Linked DNA regions of Homo sapiens: regions 1, 2, 3, 4 and 5 are each linked to region 6. Evidence: fine-mapped expression QTL. A gene starts in region 6. Each other region holds a variant in brackets. All regions are shown on one strand. Distances are from middle to middle.

Region 1 (4,089 bases), 37 kb before region 6:
GTATTGTATTTACCACCCATATTCCAATAAAGTGTAAGCTCCACAAGGGCAGGGACTCATACCTGGAATAGAACTACAGGCAGTCTACTTGTTTTCTCTGCTTGAATATATCTAATAAACATTTCAAACTTAACATATCCAAAACTAAATGTCTAATATATTTCCCAAAATCTGCTCTAATCATTGGGTCTGACACCTGTCATCTTTCAACCATATTCCAACCTCCTACCTGTTCTCCCTGTTTGCAACTTTGTCCCCCTATAGTCTATTTTCAATATACCAGCCAGACTGAGCTTTATACGATGTAAAAAGGGTCTGATCTAAACCCCTATATGTTCTCCATATCACTCAGAGAAAAAACTAAAGTTCTTACAATGACGTATCTCTCTGCTAGCCCTTGATATACTCTTCCTCAAGATATCTGCACGGCTAACTCCTGTACTCCTTCAAATTTTTGTTCAAGTGTCACATTCAATGATTTCTCTATTGATTATCCAACTGAAAATCATATACCCTGCTCCCTCTGCCCCAATCTCCCCTTTCCTGCTAACTATCCATTGCCCTTATCATCTTCTATTGTGTTATAAAATTTACCTTTTAATTAAATTTGTATCATAGCTCTCTCCACCTTCCAGAACTGCATTGTCAATATGGCAGCCACCAGCCATATGTTCCTATTTAAATTTAAATTAATTACAATTAAATAAAAGTACATTTATATATTAATATCAGACATAAGCAGAATTCAGAGCAAAGAAAATTATCACAGACAAAGAAAGGCACTGTGTAATGATAAAGGATCAGGCCATCAAAAAGATATAGCGGGCTGGGCGTTATGGCTCACGCCTGTAATCCCAGCACTTTGGGAGGCCAAGGTGGGTGGATCACCTGAGGTCAGGAGTTTGAGACGGGCCTGGCCAACAATGGTGAAATTCTGTCTCTACTAAAATACAAAAATTAGCCAGGCGTGGTGGCATGGGCCTGTAATCCCAGCTACTCAGGAGGCTGAAGCAGAATTGCTTGAACCTGGGAGGCAGAGGTTGCAGTGAGCCAAGATAGCGCCATTACACTCCAGCCTGGGCAACAAGAGCAAAACTCCATCTCAAAAAAAAAAAGATATAGTAACCCTGGCCAGACTCAGGGGCTCGCGACTGTAATCCCAGCACGTTGGACAATGGGCAGGAGGATCACTTAAGGTGAGGAGTTTGAGACCAACCTGGCCAAAATGGCAAAATTCTGTCTCTACTAAAAATACAAAAAGAACTAACCTGTAGTCCCGGCTACTCGAGAGGCTAAGGCAGGAGAATCGCTTGAACCCAGGAGACAGAGGTGCAGTGAGCCAAGATCACGCCACTGCACTCGCGGTGGCTCACACCTGTAATCCCAGCGTTTTGGGAGGTCGAGGTGGGCAGATCACCTAAAGTCAGGAGTTTGAGACCAGCCTGACCAACATGGAGAAACCCCATCTCCACTAAAAATACAAAATTAGCCAGGCAAGATGGTGCATGCCTGTAATCCCAGCTACTCGAGAGGCTAAGGCAGAATTGCTTGAACCCATGAGGCAGAGGTTGCATTGAGCTGAGATCACACCATTGCACTCCAGCCTGGGCAACAAGAGCGAAACTCCATCTCAAAAATAAATAAATAAATAAAAATAAAAAAGATATAGCAACCCTAAATGTATATGCACTAAAAAGAGCTACAAAATAAGTGAAGCTAAAACTGAAAGGAGAAATAGACAAATTCACAATTATAGGTGGAGACTTCAACACCACTCTATCAACAACAGACAGAATAAACTAGACAGTAAATCAGCAAATATATAGAACTCAACAACACCAATAATTAAGGATCTAATCAACACTTACAGAACACTCCACCCAACAACAGCAAAATACACACTCTTTTCAAGTATTAACAGAACACATACCAAGATAGATCATATCCTAAGCTAAAACCAAACCACAACAAATTTAAAACAATTGATATCACACAGGTATGTTTTCCAACCACAATGGAATCAAACTAGAAATCAGTAACATAAAAATTTCCAAGCAATATACATCTAAATAATCCATGGGTCAATGATGAAGTCTCGAAAAAATTTTTAAAATATAATAAATTGAATGCCAATGAAAATATACCATATCAAAATTTGTAGGCCAGGTGTGGTGGCTCACGCCTACCTGGATTGTAATCCCAGCACCCTGGGAGGCTGAGGTGGGCAGACCACTCTGAGCTCAGGAGATCAAGACCATCCTGGGCAATATGGTAAAACCCCATCTCTACTAAAAGTACAAAAATTAGCTGGGCGCGGTGGCTCACACCTGTAATTGCAGCACTTTGGGAGGCCGAGGTGGGTGGATCGCCTGAGGTCAGGAGTTCAAGACCAGCCTGGCCAACATGGTGAAACCCCGTCTCTACTAATACAAAAATTAGCCAGGAGCGCTGGCACGCGCACTGAAGAAACAGAAGCAGGAGAATCGTTTGAACCCAGGAAGCAGAGGTTACAGTGAGCCAAGACAGTGCCATT[G/A]CACTCCAGCCTGGGCGACAAGAGCAAAACTCTGTCTCCAAAAGTAAATAAATAAATAAATAATAATAATAAATAAATAAATAATACAAATACAAAAATTAGCCACGCAAGGTGGCACACACCTATAATCCCAGCTACTCAGGAGGCTGAGGCAGGAGAATCACTTCAACCCGGGAAGCAAAGGTTGCAGTGAGCTAAGATCGAGCCACTGCACTCCAGCCTGGGTGACACGGCAAGACTCTGTCTCAAAAAAAAATTGTAGAACATGGCTAAAGCAGTGATTACAGGAAAATCTATAGCACTAAATGCATACATTAGAAAAGAAGTCTCAAATGAATAATCTAAGCCCCCACCATAAGAACCCAGAAAACGAAGGGCAAATAAACTCAAACCCAGCAGAAAGAAGAAAATAATAAAGAGTAGGCCGGGGCCAGGCATGGTGGCTCATGCCTGTAATCCCAGCACTTTGGGAGGCTGAGGCGGGTGGATCACCTGAGGTCAGGAGTTCAAGACCAGCCTAGCCAACATGGTGAAACCCTTTCTCTACTAAAAATACAAAAATTAGCTGGCCATGGTGGCAGGCGCCTGTAATCCTAGCTGCTCCGGAGACTGAGGCAGGAGAATCGTTTGAACCCAGGAGGCAGAGGTTGCAGTGAACTGAAACTGCGCCATTGCATTCCAGCCTGGGTGACAAAAGCAAGACTCCATCTTTAAAAAAAAAAAGAGCAGGCCGGGCACGGTGGCTCATGCCTGTAATCCCAGCACTTTGGGAGGCTGAGGTGGGTGGATCACCTGAGGTCAGGAGTTCGAGACCAGTCTGCCCAATACGGTGAAACCCCGTCTCTACTAAAAATACAAAAATTAGCTGGGCATGGTGGTGCACGCCAGTAGTCCCAGCTACTTGGGAGGCTGAGACAAGAGAATCGTTTGAACCCAGTAGGTGGAGGCTGCAGTGAGCTGAGATTGTGTCACTGCACTCCAGCCTGGGCAACAGAGCAAGACTCTGTCTCAAAAAAAAAAAAAAAAGGAAATAATAAATAGCAGATAACAAACATTGGAAACAGAAAATAATGAGAAAATTCAATGAAATAAATTGCTGGTTTACCCAAATGATCTATAAAACTGAAAGACTAGCAAGACTGACAAAGAAAAAAGAAGACAGAAATTACCAACATCAGGAATGAAAAAGGGATATTACTATAGACCTTGCAGATATCAAAAGGCTAATAAAGTAAACTATGAACACACAAAAGTTTGACAATTTATATGAAATGGACCAATGTCTCAAAAACCACAAAGAATCAAAACTCATCCAATAAGACAAAGATAAAATCACTATAATTTATAAAGAAATTTAATTCATAATTTTAAAACTCAAAAAAAAAAATTTCCAGGGCCAAATAGCTTCAATGGAAAATTCTAACAAACATTTTTAGGAAAAAATAATACTAATCCTACATAATCTCTTCCAGAAAATAAGAAAGCACTTCCAATCCATTTTATGATGCTAGTATTATCCTGATACCAAAAGCAGACAAAGCCAGTACAAAAAAACT
Region 2 (4,089 bases), 91 kb before region 6:
ATGCACTAGAGATGGGCCTTGGCTTCCAGAAAAGATCTGCATCTTGGATCTTGACCAAGTATTACCTTGGGCAAATTACTTAGCTCTTTTTTCTTTTCTTTCTTTTTTTTTTTTTTTTCTTTTTGAGATGGAGTCTCGCTCTGTCACCCAGGCTGGAGTGCAGTGGCTCGATCTCGGCTCATTGCAAGCTTCGCCTCCCTGGTTCACACCATTCTCCTGCCTCAGCCTCCCAAGTAGCTGGGACTACAGGTGCCCGCCACCATGCCCAGCTAATTTTTTTTTGTATTTTTAGTAGAGACGGGGTTTCACTGTGTTAGCCAGGATGGTCTTGATCTCCTGACCTCGTGATCCGCCAGCCTCGGCCTCCCAAAGTGCTGGGATTACAGGCATGAGCCACTGAGCCTGGCCTCTTTTTCTCTTCTTACAATTTTTTTAATTGAGATAAAATTAACATAAAACTAACCATTTTAAAATATGCAATTAAGCGGTTTTTAGCATATTCATCATGTTGTGCAACCACCACCACTAATTCCAGAACATTCCATCATTTCACAAAGAAATTCTGTGCCTCATAGCAGTCACTGCTCATATTCTTGCCATTCCAGTCCCAGCAACCACTAATCAAATTTTTGTCTCTCTAGATTTACATACTCAGAACATTTGGTAAAAATGAAATCATACAACATATGGCTTTTTATCTGCCTTCATCTTTCACAAAGAATAATGTTTACAAGGTCCGCCATTTCTCTACATGGCTAAATTAAATTTCATTGTATAGATTTACCACATTTTGTTTCTCTATTCATCAGTTAATGAACTTTTAGGTTACCACCACCTTTTGGCTGTTGCAGACATTCATATGCAAGTTTCCGTAAAGACATATTGTGTTTTTATTTCTCTTGGGTACATAGTTAGGGGCAGAATTACTGGGTCATACGGTTAATTATATGTTTAACCTTTCAAAGAACTAGTGAAATTTTTCACAGTGGCTACACTAGCAATATATGAGGGCTCCAATTTATCCACATCCTTAACAATACTGATTACTTTCCATTTCATTTTTCTGTTTTTCGATTTTTCAATTTTTTTTTTCTTAGAGAGTCTCACTCTGTCATCCAGGCTGGGTGAAACAACCTAATTGTCCATCGATGGATAAATTGATAAAAAAATGTGATATAGACACAATGGAATATTATTCAACAATAAAAAGGGGACCAGGCACAGTGGCTCAGGCCAGGCATGGTGGCTCACATCTGCAATCTCAGCACTTTGGAAGGCCAAGGTGGGAGGATCACTTGAGCCCAGAAGTTCGAGACCAGTCTAAGCAACACACTGAGACCTCCTATTTCTTTTAAATAAAAATAAAAATTTAATTAAAAATTTTTTAAAAGGGGAAAATCCTGCCATTTGCAACAATACAGATGTGGCTGGAGGGCATTATACTAAGTGAAATAAGCCAGACACAGAAAGACAAATCCTGTATGATCTCACTTACATGTGGAACCTAAAAAAGCCGAACTCCCTCTCCCCCTCCCCCTCCCCCTCTCCCTCTCCCCACAGTCTCCCTCTCCCTCTCTTTCCACGGTCTCCCTCTGATGCCGAGCCGAAGCTGGACTGTACTGCTGCCATCTCGGCTCACTGCAACCTCCCTGCCTGATTCTCCTGCCTCCGCCTGCCCAGTGCCTGCGATTGCAGGCGCGCGCCGCCATGCGTGACTGGTTTTCTTATTTTTTTGGTGGAGACAGGGTTTCGCTGTATTGGCCAGGCTGCTCTCCAGCTCCTAACCGCGAGTGATCTGCCAGCCTCGGCCTCCCGAGGTGCCGGGATTGCAGACGGAGTCTCGTTCACTCAGTGCTCATTGGTGCCCAGGCTGGAATGCAGTGGCGTGATCTCGGCTCGCTACAACCTCCACCTCCCAGCCGCCTGCCCTGGCCTCCCAAAGTGCCGGAGATTGCAGCCTCTGCCCGGCCGCCACCCCGTCTGGGATGTGAGGAGCCCCTCTGCCTGGCTGCCCAGTCTGGGAAGTGAGGAGCGCCTCTTCCCGGCTGCCATCCCATCTAGGAAGTGAGGAGCGTCTCTGCCCGGCCGCCCATCGTCTGAAATGTGGGGAGCGCCTCTGCCCCGCCGCCCCGTCTGGGATGTGAGGAGCGCCTCTGCCTGGCCGCGACCCCGTCTGGGAGGTGAGGAGCGTCTCTGCCTGGCTGCCCCGTCTGAGAAGTGAGGAGCCCCTCCGCCCAGCAGCCGCCCCATCTGAGAAGTGAGAAGCCCCTCCGCCCGGCAGCCACCCCGTCTGGGAAGTGAGGGCCAGCCGCCCCGTCTGGGAGGGAGGTGGGGGGTCAGCCCCCACCCGGCCAGCCGCCCCGTCTGGGAGGGAGGTGGGGGGTCAGCCCCCGCCCGGCCAGCCGCCCCGTCCGGGAGGGAGGTGGGGGGGTCAGCCCCCACCCGGCCAGCCGCCATGTCCGGGAGGGAGGTGGGGGGCGCCTC[T/C]GCCCGGCCAGCCGCCCCGTCCGGGAGGTGGGGGGCGCCTCTGCCCGGCCGCCCCTTCTGGGAAGTGAGGAGCCCCTCTGCCCGGCCACCACCCCGTCTGGGAGGTGTACCCAACAGCTCATTGAGAACGTGCCATGATGACAATGGCGGTTTTGTGGAATAGAAAAGGGGAAAAGGTGGGGGAAAAGATTGAGAAATCGGATGGTCGCTGTGTCTGTGTAGAAAGAAGTAGACGTGGGAGACTTTTCATTTTGTTCTGTACTAAGAAAAATTCTTCTGCCTTGGGATCCTGTTGATCTATGACCTTACCCCCAACCCTGTGCTCTCTGAAACATGTGCTGTGTCCACTCAGGGTTAAATGGATTAAGGGCGGTGCAAGATGTGCTTTGTTAAACAGATGCTTGAAGGCAGCATGCTCGTTAAGAGTCATCACCAATCCCTAATCTCAAGTACCCAGGGACACAAACACTGCGGAAGGCCGCAGGGTCCTCTGCCTAGGAAAACCAGAGACCTTTGTTCACTTGTTTATCTGCTGACCTTCCCTCCACTATTGTCCTATGACCCTGCCAAATCCCCCTCTGCGAGAAACACCCAAGAATGATCAATAAAAAAAATAAAAAAATAAAAATAAAAACATTACCTGGGGAAAAAAAAAAAAAAAAAAAAAGCCAAACACATAGAAACATAATAGAATGGTAGTTGCCAGGGGCCAGAATAGAGAGGAGGAAATGAAATGCTGGTCAAAGGGTACAAGCTTAAAAAGAATACATTCTGCTGAGCTAATGTGTAGCATGGTAATAATATTTAATAGCACTATATCATATACTTGAAATTTGCTATGAGAGTAAGTCATAGGTGTTCTCATCCCCCACACACAAAATGGTAACAATAGGTGATGTATGTGCTAAAGTACTTCATTGTGGTAATCACTTTACAATGTGTACATTTATCAAATCATCACATTGCATACTTTCAATATAAACAATCTTATTTGTCAAAAAAATAAGAGTAATAACTACCATTATTTAGTCATTTATTCAAAAACTTTTTTGAGTGTTGAAGAAAAAACATGATCATCACTGGCTCAATTCTTGGCCAAAAAGACAGGTATTTAATAACCAATTATACAATAAGCTTTTTATAAACACTGTGAGAGGTAGGAGTACTGTGAGAAGTTATTAACAGGGGGCCTAACTAGTATGGGGGTCAAGACTGACAGTGTAGTTAAATATACAGAAAAGGAGAAAAAAACACAGGGTGAGACTGGAGAGGTAAGCAAGAGATATTATGTAGGGATTTTAGAATTTATCCTAAATACAACTTGTATTTTCTTATTTTATTTTATTTTATTTATTTATTTATTTATTTATTTTTGAGAAAGAGTCTCGCTCTGTCACCCAGGCTGGAGGGCAGTGGCGTGATCTTGGCTCACTGCAACCTCCGCCTCCAGGGTTCAAGTAATTCTCCCTGCCTCAGCCTCCCAAGTGGCTGGGATTACAGGTGCATGCCACCATGCCTGGCTAATTTTTGTATTTTTAGTAGAGACGGGGTTTCACCATGTTGGCCAGGCTGGTCTCGAACTCCAGACCTCAGGTGATCCGCCCA
Region 3 (4,089 bases), 25 kb before region 6:
CCAGTACTTTGAGAGGCCAAGGCAGGTGGATTACCTGAGGTCAGGGGTTCAAGACCAGCCTGGGCAACATGCCGAAACCCCGTCTCTACTAAAAGTTCAAAAATTAGTTGGGAGTGGTGGCGCATGCCTGTAATCCCAGCTACTCAGGAGGCTGAGGCAGGAGAACCCAGGAGGGGGAGGTTGCAGTGAGCAGAGATCACACCACTGCAACTCCAGCCTGGGTGACAGAGTGAGACCCCGTCTGAATGAATGAATGAATAATAAATCCAAAATACATTTAAAATCATCACCTTCACCACTACCATCTGTATCAAAGGTAGCGTCGTGGATTGGTTTTAAGTGTGGGAGCTCCCAAATTTCTACTTATACCAGCTTTATTAAAATATAATATGTAAACCATAAAATTCACCATTTCAAAAGTGTACAATTCAGTGGTTTCCAGTATATTCAGAGTTGTACAACCATCACCACTAATTCCAGAACATTTCTATTAACTCAAGAAGAAACCCCACCACCCATTAGTAACCATTCCCATTCCTCCCTCTCCTATCCCCTGGCAACCACGAATCTACTTTTGTCTCTATAGGTTTACCTATTCTAGGCATTTATATGAAGAGAATTGTATAATCTAAAACATGGCCTTTTGTGACTGGCTCCTTTCGCTTGGCATGTTTTCCAGGTTCATCCATGTTGTAGCCTGTATTGGTACTTCACCGATACTGCTAGAAAATATTGCATGGTACGGATATAACACATTTTATGTACATATGCATCAAGTGATGGACATTTGGGTTGTTTCTACTTTTTGGCTATGGTGAATAATGTTGCTATGAACATTTGTATAAGAGTTTGCTGTGGACATGTTTTCATATCTCTCAAGTATATATCTAAGAGTGGAATTGCTAGTTCATACGGTAACTCTATGTTTAACCTTTTGAGGAACTGCCAAACGGTTTTCCAAAGCAGCTGCACCAATTTCAGCTTCCACCAGCAATGTGTAAGGGCTCTGATTTCTCTAATCCTCACCAACACTGTTACTGTCAATTGTTTTGTTTTGGGTTTGTTTTTCTTTTTTTCCTTTTGTTTTTTCCTTTTTCTATGTCTGCACCGCCCCCCAACCCCGCTTCATAATACAGAACAGGCACAGGGCGTGGGCTGAAGTATACGGGGTAGGTTTACTCTATCTCCTCTTTCTATACAGTCAGTGTAAGAATACAGCCCGGCCGGGTGCGGTGGCTCACACTTGTAATCCCAGCACTTTGGGAGGCTGAGGCAGGCAGATCACGAGGTCAGGAGATCGAGACCATCCTGGCTAAAACGGTGAAACCCCGTCTCTACTAAAAATACAAAAAATTAGCCGGGCATGCTGGCAGGTGCCTGTAGTCCCAGCTACTCGGGAGGCTGAGGCAGGAGAATGGCGTGAACCCGGGCGGCAGAGCTTGCAGTCAGCCGAGATTGAGCCACTGCACTCCAGCCTGGGGGACAAAGCAAGACTCTGTCTCAAAAAAAAAAAAAAGAATACAGCCTGTGGTTAAGCACCAGGAGGTGTTGGGTTGGTTTGTTTGCTTAGGCTTTTTGGTTGTTTTTTATTTTGGAGACAGAGTCTCACTCTGTTGCACACGCTGGTCTCGAAGTCCTGGGCTCAAGGAACTAACTCTTCCACATAATCCTAGTGGTATCTAGCTGTGGTTTTGATTTGCATTTTCCTAAGGACAAATGTTGTTGACCATCTTTACATGTTCTTATTGGCATTTATATACTTTTTTGAATAAATGTCTGTTTGGATTCTTTTGCCTATTTGTAAATTGGGTTGTTTCTATTATTAAGCTGAACCCAGGATTGTTAGATTATTGAATACAACACCTCTTTAGATTGACATAATGGAAATTTAGACAGCCATTTAAAAAGACTATGTTTTGAATAATTTTTTTTTTTTTTTTTTTTT[G/TTTTG]AGACAGGGTCTCGCTCTGTCGCCCAGGCTGGAGTGCAGTGGCGCCATCTCGGCTCACTGCAGCCTCCACCTCTTGGGTTCAAGCAATTCCCCTGCCTTAGTCTCCCAGTTTGCTGGGACTACAGGCGCTCGCTACCACACCCAATTTATTTTGTTATTTTTTTTGAGATGGAGTTTCGCTCGTTGCCCAAGCTAGAGTGCAATGGCGCAACCTTGGCTCACTGCAACCTCTGCCTCCCAGATTCAAGCGAGTCTCCTGTCTCAGCCTCCCGAATAGCTGGGATTACAGGCATGCGCCACCACACCCGGCTAATTTTGTATTTTTAGTAGAGATGGGGTTTCTCCATGTTGGTCAGGCTGGTCTCAAACACCTGATCTCAGGTGATCCACCCACCTTGGCCTCTCAAAGTGCTGGGATTACAGGCGTGAGCCACAGCACCCAACCTTATTTTTGTATTTTTTAGTAGCGATGGGGTTTCACCACATTGGCCAGGCTGGTCTCAAACTCCTGACCTCAGGTAATCCACCCGTCTCAGCCTCCCAAAATGCTGGGATTAAAGGCATGAGCCACTGTGCCCAGCCTGATTTGGATAATATTTAACTGTAGTTTTTTGTTTTTGTTTTTTATTTTTGAGACAGTCTCACACTGTCACCCAGGCTGGAGTGCAATGGCACAATCTTGGCTCACTACAACCTCCAGCTCCCGCGTTCAAGCAATCCTCCTGCCTCAGCCTCCCTAGTAGCTGGGATTACAGGCATGCGGCACCACACCCCATTAATTTTTGTATATTTAGTAGAGACAGGGTTTTACCATGTTGGTCAGATTGGTCTTGAACTCCTGACCTCAGGTAATCCGCCCACCTCGGCCTCCCAAAGTGCTGGGATTTCAGGTGTGAGCCACCTCGCCCGGCCTTCACTGTAGTTTTTTAAAAGAGAATGTTAGAAATGAAAGCAAGACACTCAACTAAATATAATCTACCCAGACACACAAAAGGGACTGACTTAAATTAGACTGGAAAAGAAATCTCTGGATAATAGAATCATAGGTGATTTTTTTAATATATTTTTTATATGCTACTTTCGCATTTTCCACATAATCCGTAAGAAATGCATTTTTTCCATAATCAGGAAAAAATCATTATTATAAATTAAAGGTGAATCATGGACTTCCCTCTGTACTTCCTCCAGTTTGCAAGCTATATATCCCTTCCATTCCCTTTTTTTCACTGTGTCTATTTGTATGTAAAAAGATCTAAACATATAGGCAGTTTTAGTGTCCAAATAATGTTTAGTGTATTAAAGAAAATTCTTGCCAGGCGCAGTGGCTCATGCCTGTAATCCCAGCACTTTGGGAGGCTGAGGTGGGCGGATCACGAGATCAGGAGATCGAGACCATCCTGGCTAAAACAGTGAAACCCCATCTCTACTAATAATACAAAAAAAAAAAAAAATTAGCCAGGCGTGGTGGCAGGCGCCTGTAGTCCCAGCTACGTGGGAGGCTGAGGCAGCAGAATGGCGTGAACCCAGGAGGCGGAGCTTGCAGTGAGCCAAGATCACGCCACTGCACTCCAGCCGGGCGAGATTCCATCTCAACAAATAAATAAATAAATAAGAAAATTCTGATGTATAAAAACATATATAGGCCAGGCACGGTGGTTCACGCCTGTAATCCCAGCACTTTGGGAGGCCGAGGCGGGCAGGTCACTAGATCAGGAGATCGAGACCAGCCTGGCCAACATGGTGAAACCCTGTCTTTACTAAAATACAAAAAATTAGCTGGGCGTGGTGGCACGTACCTGTAGTCCCAGACAGAGGCAGGGGAATTGCTTGAACCTAGAAGACAGTGGTTGCAGTGACCGAGATGGTGCCACTGCACTCCAGCCTGGCAACAGAGCAAGACTCCACCTCAAAAAAAAAAAATTATATATATACATATATATGTGTGTGTGTATATATATATATATACAGCTCACACTATCTCCCAATCACCTGTTCTACTTATAATCCAGTTTATCTCAATCCCACATATTCTACTGTAAGTGATGCTCAGGTTTAACTATTTTATCATCTAATCTTACGTATCTTCCTTTTTTCATGAGAGCCTCCTTATTAATACATTAGTTTAAACAACCTTGTATAGCATC
Region 4 (4,089 bases), 180 kb after region 6:
GTAGAGGTTAAGTATGTGGATTTTGAAAGAAATGCTAATTTTCAAATCCCAACTCCCAGTTTCCTAGCTTCGTCATCTTAGGAGGCTTAAATAACATCTTTGTGCTTTAATTTTCTCATCTGTGTAATGACTATGATAGTCTTCTTTGGGTGGATGTGAACATTAGTTGAATTAATCCATGCGGAAATACCTAGAATGGTGCCTGGCACATAATAGTTAGATATTTTTATTGCCATTCTACTGATATATATGTAGCTGTATCTTTGCATACTTTCTTTCACTAGTATTATTTCAGCTGTTTAATACAACTTGGCCTTTTGCTACTCTCTTTCTGTAGCTACTTTGAAATAACTGAAGGGGATTATAAAAGGGAATTGAAAAATTAGCAATATTGCTACTTAGAAGGTAAATGCAAAAATATGTCATGGGGTAAGCTTTAGATTATGAATTAAGGGTTGCTTGTTATTTTGCATATTTGTGAGGTAACTTTAAAATAAAAATTGTCTCCTGAAGTAGGCTTTTTCTTGAGGCATTGTATTTCTTGGTTTATACTTGGGGGCAGAGATGGAGCTTTTTTACAACTTTCTTTAGATCAGATAATTTTTAAGAGAGCCTTCTCTACTAGCATCCATCCATATAGGGGAAGTGGAAGTCAACCAAAGGAATACTTGTTGGTTTATGGGTTTAAGAAAAAAAAACAACTATATTATTTTTTGCAGGACCTTAATTCCCATTTTACATCAAAAAGCAAAGAGGGGTACTCCACACCAAGCAAAACAGGCTGTGCACTGTATACACGCCATATTCACAAATAAAGAAGTCCAGCTTGCACAGATTTTTGAGGTATATCTAATATATAGGTTGTGTTTATATTGGTCTTTATTTTTTAAGCTCTATAGTTTGATGAAGATGGAAGCTAGATTTTTTAAAGCTGTTTATATGAAGTCCTACCTTAGACTATAAATTCCTTGTGAGCAAGGATTCTGTCTATTTTATGTGGTACTGCATTCCCAGCCTGTAGATCAGATTATATGTTCAAACACCTCATATTGAAGGGTTTTGTGGTTTTTGTTTTTTAGTTTGTTTTTGAGATAAAGTTTCACTTTCTCACCAGTGCTGGAGTACAGTGATGCAATCTCTGCTCACTGCAGCCCCGAATTCCTAGGTTCAAGCAGTCCTTCTGCCTCAGCCTCCCAAGTAGCTGAGAGTACAGGCACCACCACCATGCCTAGCTAATTTTTGGATTTTTTTATAGAGATGGGGTTTTGCCATGTTGCCCAGGCTGGTCTCAAACTCCTGGACTGAAGCGATCCACCCACTTCAGTCTTTCAAAGTGCTAGGATTACACACATGAGCCACCACACCTAGCCTTATGTGTTTATGTTAGAACATTTTACTTAATTTTAGCCTTATTGGTTCAGTGGTGCATTTATCCTCGGAAAGTATTAGTAGATAATTTTGAACAATCCAGTTTAAAGTACCTAAGAACCCTACCTGAAAATTAATCCTGTTTCCCTTTTTTTT[A/TA]CATATAATGACTGGCCTCATTTTACTATTAGAAATGTATTCCTATTATCATAAATTGGAGATAGTGTGACCAAAACCCAGTGAACTCTTACTTTGTATGATTTAAGGTCATTTAAAATGCTTCCACAGGGTAAGAAAACCACTGGTATAGCAAATCCATTGTTGTAGATTAGTCAAAAATAATGCTGATTTGATGAAGCAAAAATGTTTTTCTTTAAACTTCTTTTTGTTGGATTTTATTTTTTCTTTTATCTTTTTTCTACATTCTTTCAATCTTGCTAAATTTTAGTAGGTGAATTAAGAACCAGGTGTCTTAACATGGTTGAAGTTAGTTATGATCGTATTAGAGAAGATTGGTTTGGGCATGGTAAATTCAGGAGGACTCAGGAAAATGTACTGTTTCAGTAGAGTGTCTAGATATTTATCAAACAAATTGGTAATTTTGTCTGTTTTATTTTTATAGCCACTCAGTAGGAGTCTGAATGCTGATGTGCCAGAACAACTTATAACTCCATTAGTTTCATTGGGCCACATTTCTATGTTAGCACCAGATCAGTTTGCTTCCCCAATGAAATCTGTAGTAGCAAATTTTATTGTGAAAGATCTGCTAATGAATGACAGGGTAAGTTTCTCATTTAATTAAATTGAGAATCATGAGATTAAGGCTGTTTACATCTTCATCACAGAAACACTTCTGTTTCTGTGTAATTCTCTTTTTCTTTTAAATTATTCTATATTGGTTCTACTTATTTTTTATTTATTTAAATTCGAAACTACTTCCTTATTTCATGGTAGCTATTACTACTAGAATTTCACACTTAAGAAACAAAAATTAGAACACGGGATTGGTGAATCATGAAAGTTACATATAAGTAAAAGCTATTTTCCTGACCCTCAAAAGACAGTTTATCATTTTCTGGAATGTTAGAATTGGGTTATTTTTGTTTTTTGTTTTGAAGACAAGAGTCTCGCTCTGTGCCTCAGGCTGGAATGCAGTGGCACGATCTCGGCTCACTGCAACCTTGGCCTCCTCTCATTCCTCAGCCTCCCAAGTAGCTGGGATTACAGGTGCCTGTCACCACGCCTGGCTAATTTTTGTGTTTTTAGTAGAGACGGGGTTTCGCTATGTTGGCCAGGCTTATATTGAACTCCTGACCTCAGGTGATCCGTCCGCCTTGGCCTCTCCAAGTGCTGGGATTACAGGTGTGAGCCACCATGCCGGGCTAAAATTTGTTTTATCAAACATTGTTAGAAATGTAAGTGGATTAGCCGGGTGTGGTGACGGCAGCTGTAATCCTAGCTACTCAGGAGGCTGAGGCAGGAGAATCACTTGAACCCAGAAGGCAGAGGTTGCAGTGAGCCATGATTGCACAGTTGCACTCCAGCCTGGACAACAAGAGCGAAACTCTGTCTCAAAAAAAAAAAAAAAAAAAAAGTAAGTGGACTTGAATTTGACTAATTTTTAAGATAATACACTGTACTTTTGGCACTAGATTTATTGATGTCTGTGTGCTCTGATTTATTACCTCTGGGTTGGAATGTATAGATTGAAAAGACTCCCCAAATGATTTCGGAAACACACCTTGATTAAGAGTCACTACTGGCAGGGCTTGGTGGCTCACGCCTGTAATCCTAGCACTTTGAGGGGCCGAGGTGGGTGGATCACCTGAGGTCAGGAGTTCAAGACCAGCCTAGCCAACATGGTGAAACCCTGTCTCTACTAAAAATACAAAAAAATTAGCCGGGCTTGGTGGCGAGTGCCTGTAATCCCAGCTATTCGGGAGGCTGAGGCAGGAGAATCGCTTGAACCCGGGAGGCAGAGGTTGCAGTGAGCCAAGATTGCACCATTGCACTCCAGCCTAGGCGACAAGAGCAAGACTGTCTCAAAAAAATAAATAAATAAATAAAAGAATCACTGCTTTACCAAATGGATCTAAATTAAATCTGTTGTTATTGAATAAAGACACAGATATGCTGGATCATTGTGGATGACTTTCATTTAAGTGTTAGTTTGCCACAAATCCAGCTTATCCAAAGTTCCTAACTCTCACATGTTTCGGTAATCTTGAGGCCTCAGTATCAGGAACTTAAAGACACCTGCTAGTGCCCCTTCTGTATTTGTACCACCTTCCACTTTTGAACGCAGCAGACAAGAAGAGAAGAACGTGGCCTAAGTCTCATTTTCTACCCTTACATATCCTTGCTGTTATTTTTACTTTCGATAGATGTGGTTTTCAACAAATGTGAAATTTAAGATACCTCTTAAATGATGATTGTTGATAGATTGTGTTTTCAGACGGTCTTTTTTTATGGTGATAAACTATACATAGTATCAAATTTGCTATTTTTAAGTGTTAAAATTCACTAACATAATAGCCACATTGTTACCTAATCATCACCACCCCATCCATCTCCAGAATTTTTTATCACCCCATACAGAAACTCTGTACCCATTAAGCAACAACTCTCCATTGCCCTCTGTTCTACCTTCTGACTCTATGACTACCTATTCTAGGTATCTCTTATATGATATTTGTCCTTTTGTGTCTGTTGTATTTCACTTAG
Region 5 (4,089 bases), 630 kb after region 6:
ACAGATAGTCAACATATAAACCACCATGGAGGCCTGGCACAGTAGCTCTCACCTGTAATCCCAGCACTTTGGGAGGCCGAGGCGGGTGGATCACTTGAGGTCAGGAATTCGAGAACAGCCTGGCCAACATGGTGAAACCCCATCTCTATTAAAAATACAAAAATTAGCCAGGCGTGGTGGCACATGCCTGTAGTCCCAGCTACCAGGGAGGCTGAAACAGAATCGCTTGAACCCGGGATGCAAAGGTTGCAGTGAGCCGAGATAGCGCCACTGCACTCCAGCCTGGGCAACAGTGCGAAGCTCCATCTCAAAAAAAGAAAAAGAAAAAGAAACCACCATGGAGATTACAAATTATTATAATAATAAAAACAAGGGCCATCACGTGTAGAGCCTGCAGCAAAGCCAGATTTACTGTGAGCCTAATGAAGCTTTAGCTTCAGGTCGCCTTGCTTACCTACGTCCCTAGAAATGCCCTGGGTGGGTCAGGGAGCCTAGTTGCAATTGGAAGCATTTCTAGGTGAGCAGTTCTTGCAAATTCCCTAAAGAGACTTTAGAAAAAAAGGACTCTAAGGCTATAGTAATTTATTGTGCTAGGCGTGGTAGCTCATGTCTGTAATCCCAGCACTTTGGGAAGCCAAGGCTGGTGGATCACTTGAGCCCAGGAGTTCGAGACCGGCCTGGCCAACATGGCAAAACCTCGTCTCTACAAAAAATACAAAAATTAGCTGGGTATGGTGGTGTGCACCTGTAATCCCAGCTACTCAGGAGGCTGAGGTGGGAGGATCACCTGAGCCCACGGAGGTTGAGGCTGCAATGAGCCGTGATTGTGCCACTGCACTCCAGCTTGGGTGACAGAATGAGACCTGTCTCAAAAACAAAAACAAAAACAAAAAATAACTATCATAATTTATTGTGATGTTTTTCTCATTCTAAATAAATGCTCATTTATTTATTTTTGCAGAGACAGGGTCTCACTATGTTGCCCAGGCTGGTCTCAAACTCAAGCAATCCTCCTGCCTTGGCCTCCCAAAGTGCCTGAGCTACTGTACCTGGCCAGATATTTACTTTTGTACTGATTTTTGTCTCCCTTTAAAATTTTTTTTATTTTAAAAAAAAGATCCTTCCCCACTATTGTAAAAGTCTCAGGCTCGTGCAGTGTGGCTCCACACCAGGTCTATTAGCTTCTTGAGGGCAGAGACTGACTATATTTATTGTGTTCACAGTTGTCCACACAGATGCCCAGGGGAGGGCCTGGCCTAGAATATTTGTTGAATGAATGCCTATTATGGATCAGCTAGTTTGTTGGTTACTTGACGTACCTTATTGATAATACAGCTTCTGCAAGACAAGTCTTATTTTTCCCATTTTAGAAAAGAAATTGAAGTTTACAGTTGCAGAGCTGGGATTTGAACCCACTTTATTACACCATCCTGCTTTCTGTATGTCCTGCCAGTTCTAAATTTTGAAGCTATTCGGGAAAGACCATTTGACATATTGTTTTAAAATTACATTTTCTCTCTGCTGTACTTGGTTATTAAAAGAGCTAAATAGTCCTCGAATGAGGGTACTACATTCCACAATTGCATGTTGAGAGAAAAATATCTATATACCTTTGGAATTCAGTATCATCTAGAGAGGTCATGGAGGACCTGTCAGCAAATTTGGGGTGTTCAGAAAACCATTAGTTGTCCAAGTGCCTAGCACAG[C/T]GCTTCTATGTGTAACATTTATATGTAATTCTCGATTCACCTCTCTCCTAAAACCAGTAACGTTAGCGTTGGATTATTTTCCTCACTGATGTCAAAAGCTAAGTGAATCCCTCAGGGACCACCCCTGTGCTGGATTGTCTTCCCCTGTGAATGGTGATCTTTACACCATTGTCAATGTTAGACTGAGGCCGGGAGCGGTGGCTCACGCCTGTAATCCCAGCACTTTGGAAGGCTGAGATGGGTGGATCACTTGAGGTCAGGAGTTTGAGACCAGCCTGGCCAACATGGTGAAACCCTGTCTCTACTAAGAATACAAAAATTAGCCAGGCATTGTGGCATGCGCCTGTAGTCCCAGCTACTCTACTCGGGAGGCTGAGGCAGGAGAATCACTTGAACCCAGGAGGTGGAGGCTGCAGTGAACCAAGATAACACCACTGCACTCCAGTGTGGGTGACAGAGCAAGACTCTGTCTCAAAAAAAAAAAAAAGTTAGACTGAAAGGACAGAGATCCTTGTCTGCATAGCATTTAGAACAGCATGGCATTCAATCAAGTAATAATTAAAAGGGTCTTAGAGATGAGTGATTTTCATAACTGAATGTAACAGAACAGTAATGGAAATAAGAGCCATAGAAATTGAATAATATAAATATTAATAAGAGCTAACACATATCTAGTACCAAATGTGCCGGACACTGTTCCAGGTGTTGTGTGTATACTCTCTCACCTAATCCTCACTGAAATTCTGCGAGGTAGGTACTGTGATCATTCCCACTTAGAGGAGAGGAAACCAGGGGGTGGAGAGGTTAGGTAACTTGCACAAGGTGAATCAGGCCCAGGCTATATCGCCCTATGTGCTCTTGCCTGCCAGTTAGAGGTAGAGTGTGGACCTCAGAGGTCATTTTGTTCAATTTTTAAAAGTTTCTATTATAGATGAAGAAGCTGAACCTCCCTCTCTCCCACATAAATGACCTGCCCAAGATATCAGTTAGTGGTAAAGCTAGAAATAGAACTAAGTCCTTCACCTTCCTAGTTCACTGTCATTCCAGGATATCGTGCAAATTAAATTATGTGCCTTTGAAATACACTTTTACACCGTAGACCCGAAGGTGATTGAACAGGCTGTGAAAATGCAAGGGGTATGCAACAGACATGACACAAAACCAAGGGACAGTAGACTGAGAAAGCCTCTAAGAAACACTCAGAGGCGGCCGGGCGTGGTGGCTCATGCCTGTAATTCCAACACTTTGGGAGGCCGAAGGGGGTGGATCATTTGAGGTCAGGAGTTCGAGATCAGCCTGGCCAACATGGTGAAACCCTGCCTCTACTAAAAATACAAAAATTAGCAGGGCAGTGGTGGCACATGCCTGTTATCCCAGCTACTTGGGAGGCTGAGGCAGGAGAATTGCTTGAGCCTGGGAGGCGGAGGTTAGGGTGAGCTGATCGCACCACTGAGCTCCAGTCTGGGTGACAGAGTGAGACCTTGTCTTTTTTTTTTTTTTGACGGAGTGTTGCTCTGTTGCCCAGGCTGGAGTGCAATGGCAGGATCTCTGCTCACAGCAACCTCTACCTCCCAGATTCAAGCAATTCTCCTGCGTCAGTCTCTCGAGTAGCTGGAGTTATAAGCACGGGCTACTATGCCCAGCTAAATTATTTTTTGTATTTTTAGTAGAGACGGGGTCTTGCCGTGTTGGCCAGGCTGGTCTTGAACTCCCGACCTCAAGTGATCCGCCCACCTTGGCCTCCTAAAGTGTTGGGATTACAGACATGAGCCACTGTGCCTGGTCGGAGTCATAGTTTTGATTATGCCTGCATCCCACTTCACCACCTGGGGTGCCCCTCAGAACCCAATCAAATGGAGAATTCATCAGCATTACCTTACGTTTCATCCTGTTCATTACACAAAGTTATATACATCAACAAAAACATGTTTAGATAAGTCACTTTTATTTGTCTGAGTTTCCTTCAACCTCCAGCTATTATTTTATCCCTTTTGTCACTCTTCATCCATTTACTTTATTTATTTAAATTCAAGTCTACAAACATTTATTTAACAAATACAAGGCACTGTAATAGACATTTAGAAAAACAAGGTAGCCCCTGCCTTTAGATGATCTATGGTGTCTAACAGGAGAAAAAAATATGGAAATGAGTGAAATAAAAACAGTATGCTTTTACATTTTGATTATTGAGAAATAATAACTGAAACTAAATGTAATAATACGATTCAAAAATCACTATATGTATGTATATGTTATGTGTACATATATACATAGAAAAAAATTTGAACATTGAACAAATTGCTGGCAGTGGTTACTTCCCGTGGTGTGTGGTTAGGGAGTAAGGAAAGAAGAGAACCTTTATTTTTAACAATGTGTTTCTGTG
Region 6 (4,089 bases):
TGAGCCCAGGAGGCAGACGTTGCAGTGAGCTGAGATAGTGCCACTGCACTCCAGCCTTGGCGATACGGCCAGACCTTGTCTCAAAAAAATAAATAAATAAGATGCAACTATGTAACAGTATTTAGATTTAAAATAAATACTAAAAAAAAAACATGCAACTAGTGATAATATTTAGCTTCTACTGTGTACATACAAGATACTATGCCTACTTTAATATACTTTAATGAAGGAAAAAACATGCCTCTACCATAACTTAAGCCCACTTTTTCTATGAAATACAGTACTTCTATCTCCCCTTCAAATTAACTAAAGTCAACAAGTACACAAACTGGCATTCGTACGTACTGCGTGCTGATTTCAACTGCTTTATTCTTTATTGTTTTACAGGTTAGTCTTTTTTCATTAACTAAATTGTAGCCTCCTTGCAAAAGAGCAGCCATTTATTTCCTATTCTTCCCACCATGTCCACCACTACAGCCCCTCGCTCCTACCCCCCATCCTAGCACGGCACTTAAATAATAAAAGGTCCTGGCAGCGAAACTCAAAACTGTTTATTTCTGACCTTTAGCAGTAAACAATGTTAGAAAGGCAGATGGAACCACGTTTATCAAAACACAGAACACACGATGTTTACATTTCCTAAAGCGCGTCTTTTAGTTAAAATTAAAGGATGAGAGTTAAAACGAGTTACAAAAGACAGCTGGTGTTTGAAAGAAAAACACTGGAAGTAATAAAAACGGAGTGAAAAGGCTGATGTTGGGATTAAAAGAAAACATTTTTTTAATACAGCTGCAAATCAGTCATTGTTTTCTGAGAGGCTAGGTTCATCTCCAGGATTTTCTTCTAGGAGCTCAACCAATGGCCACCTTTACTGAGTTAACCAGTCTCCAGGCAAGCAGCCCTTGCTGATTGGCTCAAAGATGTCGAGTAGAAAAAGCAGCCAATCCTGCCTTCAAGCCAGAACTGTGCCATGGAGACATTACAACCACTGCATGGCGAGAATGTGTACAAACCTGTCCGTGCCACAAATATCAGATCCTAGTTACAAAGACTGCCGCCGAAAGGAAGAGCCTTTGAAGCCAACACTGACACTGACCTGTCATCTACATTCTATTACTCTAGCTCTCTTTCGGAGGGAAAAAAAAAACTATTTTAACCAAAAGCGCATGAGAGATAAACTGTGCCCCCGCTAAGATGACTCACTCTATTGAGGATGAATTTCCAAACGGACGGCTTAGAGAGAGTCCCGATGAGAGAGGGGCTCTAGAAGGGTCCCATTGAGGGACAAAGTTGCAGATGGGGGCAGGGGAGGCGGGACGAGGGCCAAAGACACACAAATGCCGGGGAGGGGAAAGTCTCCCCGCAGTCTCCAAAATCCGAACGTGTGAGTGGCTGTGTGTCTGGACTTGAACTGAGTAAATAAACGGCTCTGCTAGGACTATGTGCTCAGGAAGGTGGCCTGAAGTTCCCAGAAGGCTCCGCCTGGCAAACACCTAAGGCGCCTGGAGGGGCGCAAGGTCAGGTCCCGGCGGGAACAGATCTGGGAGGAAACCTCGGGGGGTCGAGAGGGGTGTGTCTGGGGCCTGGAGGCCCGCCAGGCACTCGGAGGCCAAGGAAGCGGCCGCGGCCCCCGCCTTCGCCCGGCCTCGGGCTGAGCGCCAGGGCCCGCCTCTCGCCGACGCCTCACTTCCCTTCCGTCCGGGCAGCCGGGCCCGCGGGTCAGATCGGAGGCGGCCCGCGCCGGGCCCCACATTCAGGGCTTGGGGGTTCATTCGCCGCGCCGCCCGCCGCTGCTTCAGGCCCTCCGCTTCGGCTCGGAGCCCCGGGACCCCTAACCTCCAGGGCCCTCACCTTGGACCCGCCTCCCTGCCTCCCACCCGCCGCCTTTACCTGCTTCTGGAGCGGGCAGAGGGCGTCGAAGCCGGTGCCGCGTCGTCGAACGCACAACGCGGCGCCGCAGGTCCGCAGCCCTTTCCCGCCGGCGCCACTGCGCTCTCCCGCGCCGCGCAAGGCTAGCAAGCAGCTGCGGCCGCGGGGGAGACACGGCGAGCGCGCCCGGCGGGGAGACACTGCCGCTCTCCGTCCGGCCGGGGAAGAGCAGCCGCGCAGAAGCCCGCCGCGAGAGGGCGGGTGGGCGGCCGGGTGGGGAGGGGTCTCGAGGCGCCGGCAATGGCTGCCACGTCGCCCAGGTGGATCGCCGCCCACCGCCCCCCCCCAAGCCCGCCGGCTGTCCGCCACGACCTCTGCTTCGTCCCCGAGCTCCGCCTCGGCGCGGCGGCCCGGGGGACTTGAGCCCGCGGGCGCTCCCACCTCTCCCGCTCCCGCTCTCCCGTTGGAGAGCAAGCCCTGCCCGGCCGGTTCGGCTGCTTCCGGTCGCCCACCCCCCAAGTCTCGCCCGAGAGCGGGCCGTGGTCCCCACTTTTCTTATCAGGGGGTCCCTGGAGGAGCAAGCCCTTCTTCGAGTGTCGGGTTCTGCTTGGGGGGAAGGCGGGAGCTGTTTGGCGCTGGGGAACATTGCAACAGGCCCGGAATTTTTGCCAAAATAAGCGGCGCGGTAAACCACAGCTGTTTCTAGCCCTCGGCACTCTCCCGAGCCCCAAAAAACAAAACAAACACAAGGTCGGCCTCGCGAGGTGAGGGGAGAAAGGAAAGCAGAGCTGGGACGAGCCCTGACGCGCGCGGGGTCCAGGCTGCAAGTTGGGAGGGACGGCGAGGCGAGCGACCGGCCTCGGCATTGCCTGACTAGGGCCGTGGCCGCTGCGGCGGGCACGGGAACCCGCCTTCTCGCGCGCGGCCCTCCCGCGGGGGGCTTCCGGGCGCGCGGCCTCGGAGCCCCACGGGGAGACAAAGGGGTAGGCGACTGCCACGGGGTGGAGGGAGGCTGCCCAGCCCCATCGGCCCTGCCAGCGTGCGGTCTGAGCTCGGGGAATGTGTGCGCCTTAGCCGGTGGAACCGCAGCCGCTGGCCTTTGCCCCCAGTTCGAGCTTGAGTTTTCGGATGCCAAGAAAAAGCAAAGACGTGCTCTTCCCTCTTGCGACCGCTGTAGTATGAGTCCGTCCCCAAGCCTGCACCATTTTTTTTCTCTCAACTCTGCTTTCCCTGGTTTATTTGTTCTGGGTTCTGATGTGAAATGTTTAGTGTTTTCAGGGTACGCAAATTTTTCACCTTTGCTTTCTGGTTGGTGGTGGTGGTGGTGATGGTAGTGGTGGTGGTTTTGCCTGTTTTTTACTTCCTCCGTCCCCTCCCTTTGCGGTTACTTTTCATTCCACTTGCAGTGGTTTTTCCCAGAATAGAGAAGCGAAATAACCTCATGACAAAGTGTCCCTTTGCATCGAAGATACATTGTTGGTTGTTATGGCAGTTGCTTTAAACAGAGTGTAAATTTGGGGCAAGTGCAAGTGGTTTTTGTCGTTTAGGTCTAACTGGAACACTTATTCACAATGAGAACGTTGTAGTGCTTTTTCAAGAAACTAGTAATATATAAGGAGAGAACTCAAGAAGATAAATTTTCTGATGAAACCATCCATATAGAAAAATAGGGGAATTTTTCCTTTTGTATGAATTTTGTATTTAGAGGTCTCGAGTCCCAGTGTTAAATCACAGACTTCATGTTCATCCTTAAAAAAAAATCACTATACAAAAACCCCTTAATGCTTTTATTAAATTTCAAAAACAAAAAATTGTAATAACCCAGAATCTCAAGAGATAAATAGCTGTTGCTGAGAAGCTAACATTAACTCTGCCTCTAAACAACCATTATAAGAGACTAAAAACTGTAATATATGCCACTTTAGAAATGAAAGAACCCTAGTAATTATAAACTTGAAAGATGTCGAGGAAATTAATATTTTGTTTTTGAAATATGTTCACCATGATAATAAAAACTAGCATTTAAATTATTTTCCTTTGAACATCTGTTAAGGATTCATCAAATCTTAAGTCAGAACAATAAGAAATAAACTCTTCTTAACATTGGAAAATATATTTCAAGCCACAAAGACAACACCCAAGCTGAATGTTTTTAAAGTTTGTTTACTATGGCAATAAGAAGAACATCAACACCATAAAGTTCTGAAAGTGAGACTGGAA

Which allele goes with the higher level. Alleles are on the strand shown, and positions count from the first base shown. SD is a standard deviation of normalised expression in the study named. Not every link is listed here.
In carriers of allele C in region 2, the expression in monocytes of the gene that starts at base 2,071 in region 6 tends to be lower than with T alone (large effect, 0.80 SD a copy in Fairfax 2014).

The links. PIP is the estimated chance that this variant, and not a neighbour inherited with it, causes the effect.
Region 1: its variant is the best candidate, but not a certain one, in a credible set for the expression of N4BP2 in subcutaneous fat (GTEx, PIP 0.72).
Region 2: its variant is the best candidate, but not a certain one, in a credible set for the expression of N4BP2 in monocytes (Fairfax 2014, PIP 0.60).
Region 3: its variant is the best candidate, but not a certain one, in a credible set for the expression of N4BP2 in CD4 T cells (Kasela 2017, PIP 0.52).
Region 4: its variant is the best candidate, but not a certain one, in a credible set for the expression of N4BP2 in stomach (GTEx, PIP 0.58).
Region 5: its variant is the best candidate, but not a certain one, in a credible set for the expression of N4BP2 in whole blood (INTERVAL, PIP 0.61).

The regions. Positions count from the first base shown.
Region 1 is chr4:40,092,116-40,096,204 of GRCh38, reverse strand. All of the region lies in intron 2 of N4BP2 (NEDD4 binding protein 2), which reads right to left. Among named protein-coding and RNA genes, the nearest start is that of N4BP2, 37 kb to the right of the region's middle. The variant G/A (reference allele first, on the strand shown) is at 2,534.
Region 2 is chr4:40,145,932-40,150,020 of GRCh38, reverse strand. The region is part of intron 16 of N4BP2 (NEDD4 binding protein 2); the gene reads right to left. Among named protein-coding and RNA genes, the nearest start is that of RHOH, 49 kb to the left of the region's middle. RefSeq lists an enhancer at 1,649-2,430. The variant T/C (reference allele first, on the strand shown) is at 2,485.
Region 3 is chr4:40,080,132-40,084,220 of GRCh38, reverse strand. All of the region lies in intron 2 of N4BP2 (NEDD4 binding protein 2), which reads right to left. It also overlaps the pseudogene LOC124900183. Among named protein-coding and RNA genes, the nearest start is that of N4BP2, 25 kb to the right of the region's middle. The variant G/TTTTG (reference allele first, on the strand shown) is at 1,946.
Region 4 is chr4:39,871,043-39,875,131 of GRCh38, reverse strand. It overlaps PDS5A (PDS5 cohesin associated factor A), which reads left to right. Exons shown (of 33, transcript NM_001100399.2): 20 at 720-843; 21 at 1,988-2,146. Among named protein-coding and RNA genes, the nearest start is that of PDS5A, 100 kb to the left of the region's middle. The variant A/TA (reference allele first, on the strand shown) is at 1,525.
Region 5 is chr4:39,420,870-39,424,958 of GRCh38, reverse strand. The region is part of intron 1 of KLB (klotho beta); the gene reads right to left. Among named protein-coding and RNA genes, the nearest start is that of MIR5591, 11 kb to the right of the region's middle. The variant C/T (reference allele first, on the strand shown) is at 1,707.
Region 6 is chr4:40,054,832-40,058,920 of GRCh38, reverse strand. It overlaps N4BP2 (NEDD4 binding protein 2), which reads right to left and starts at 2,071. Exons shown (of 18, transcript NM_018177.6): 1 at 1,891-2,071. It also overlaps the pseudogene LOC344967. RefSeq lists enhancers at 1,010-1,109, 1,210-1,259 and silencers at 1,450-1,799, 1,850-2,309, 2,650-2,859.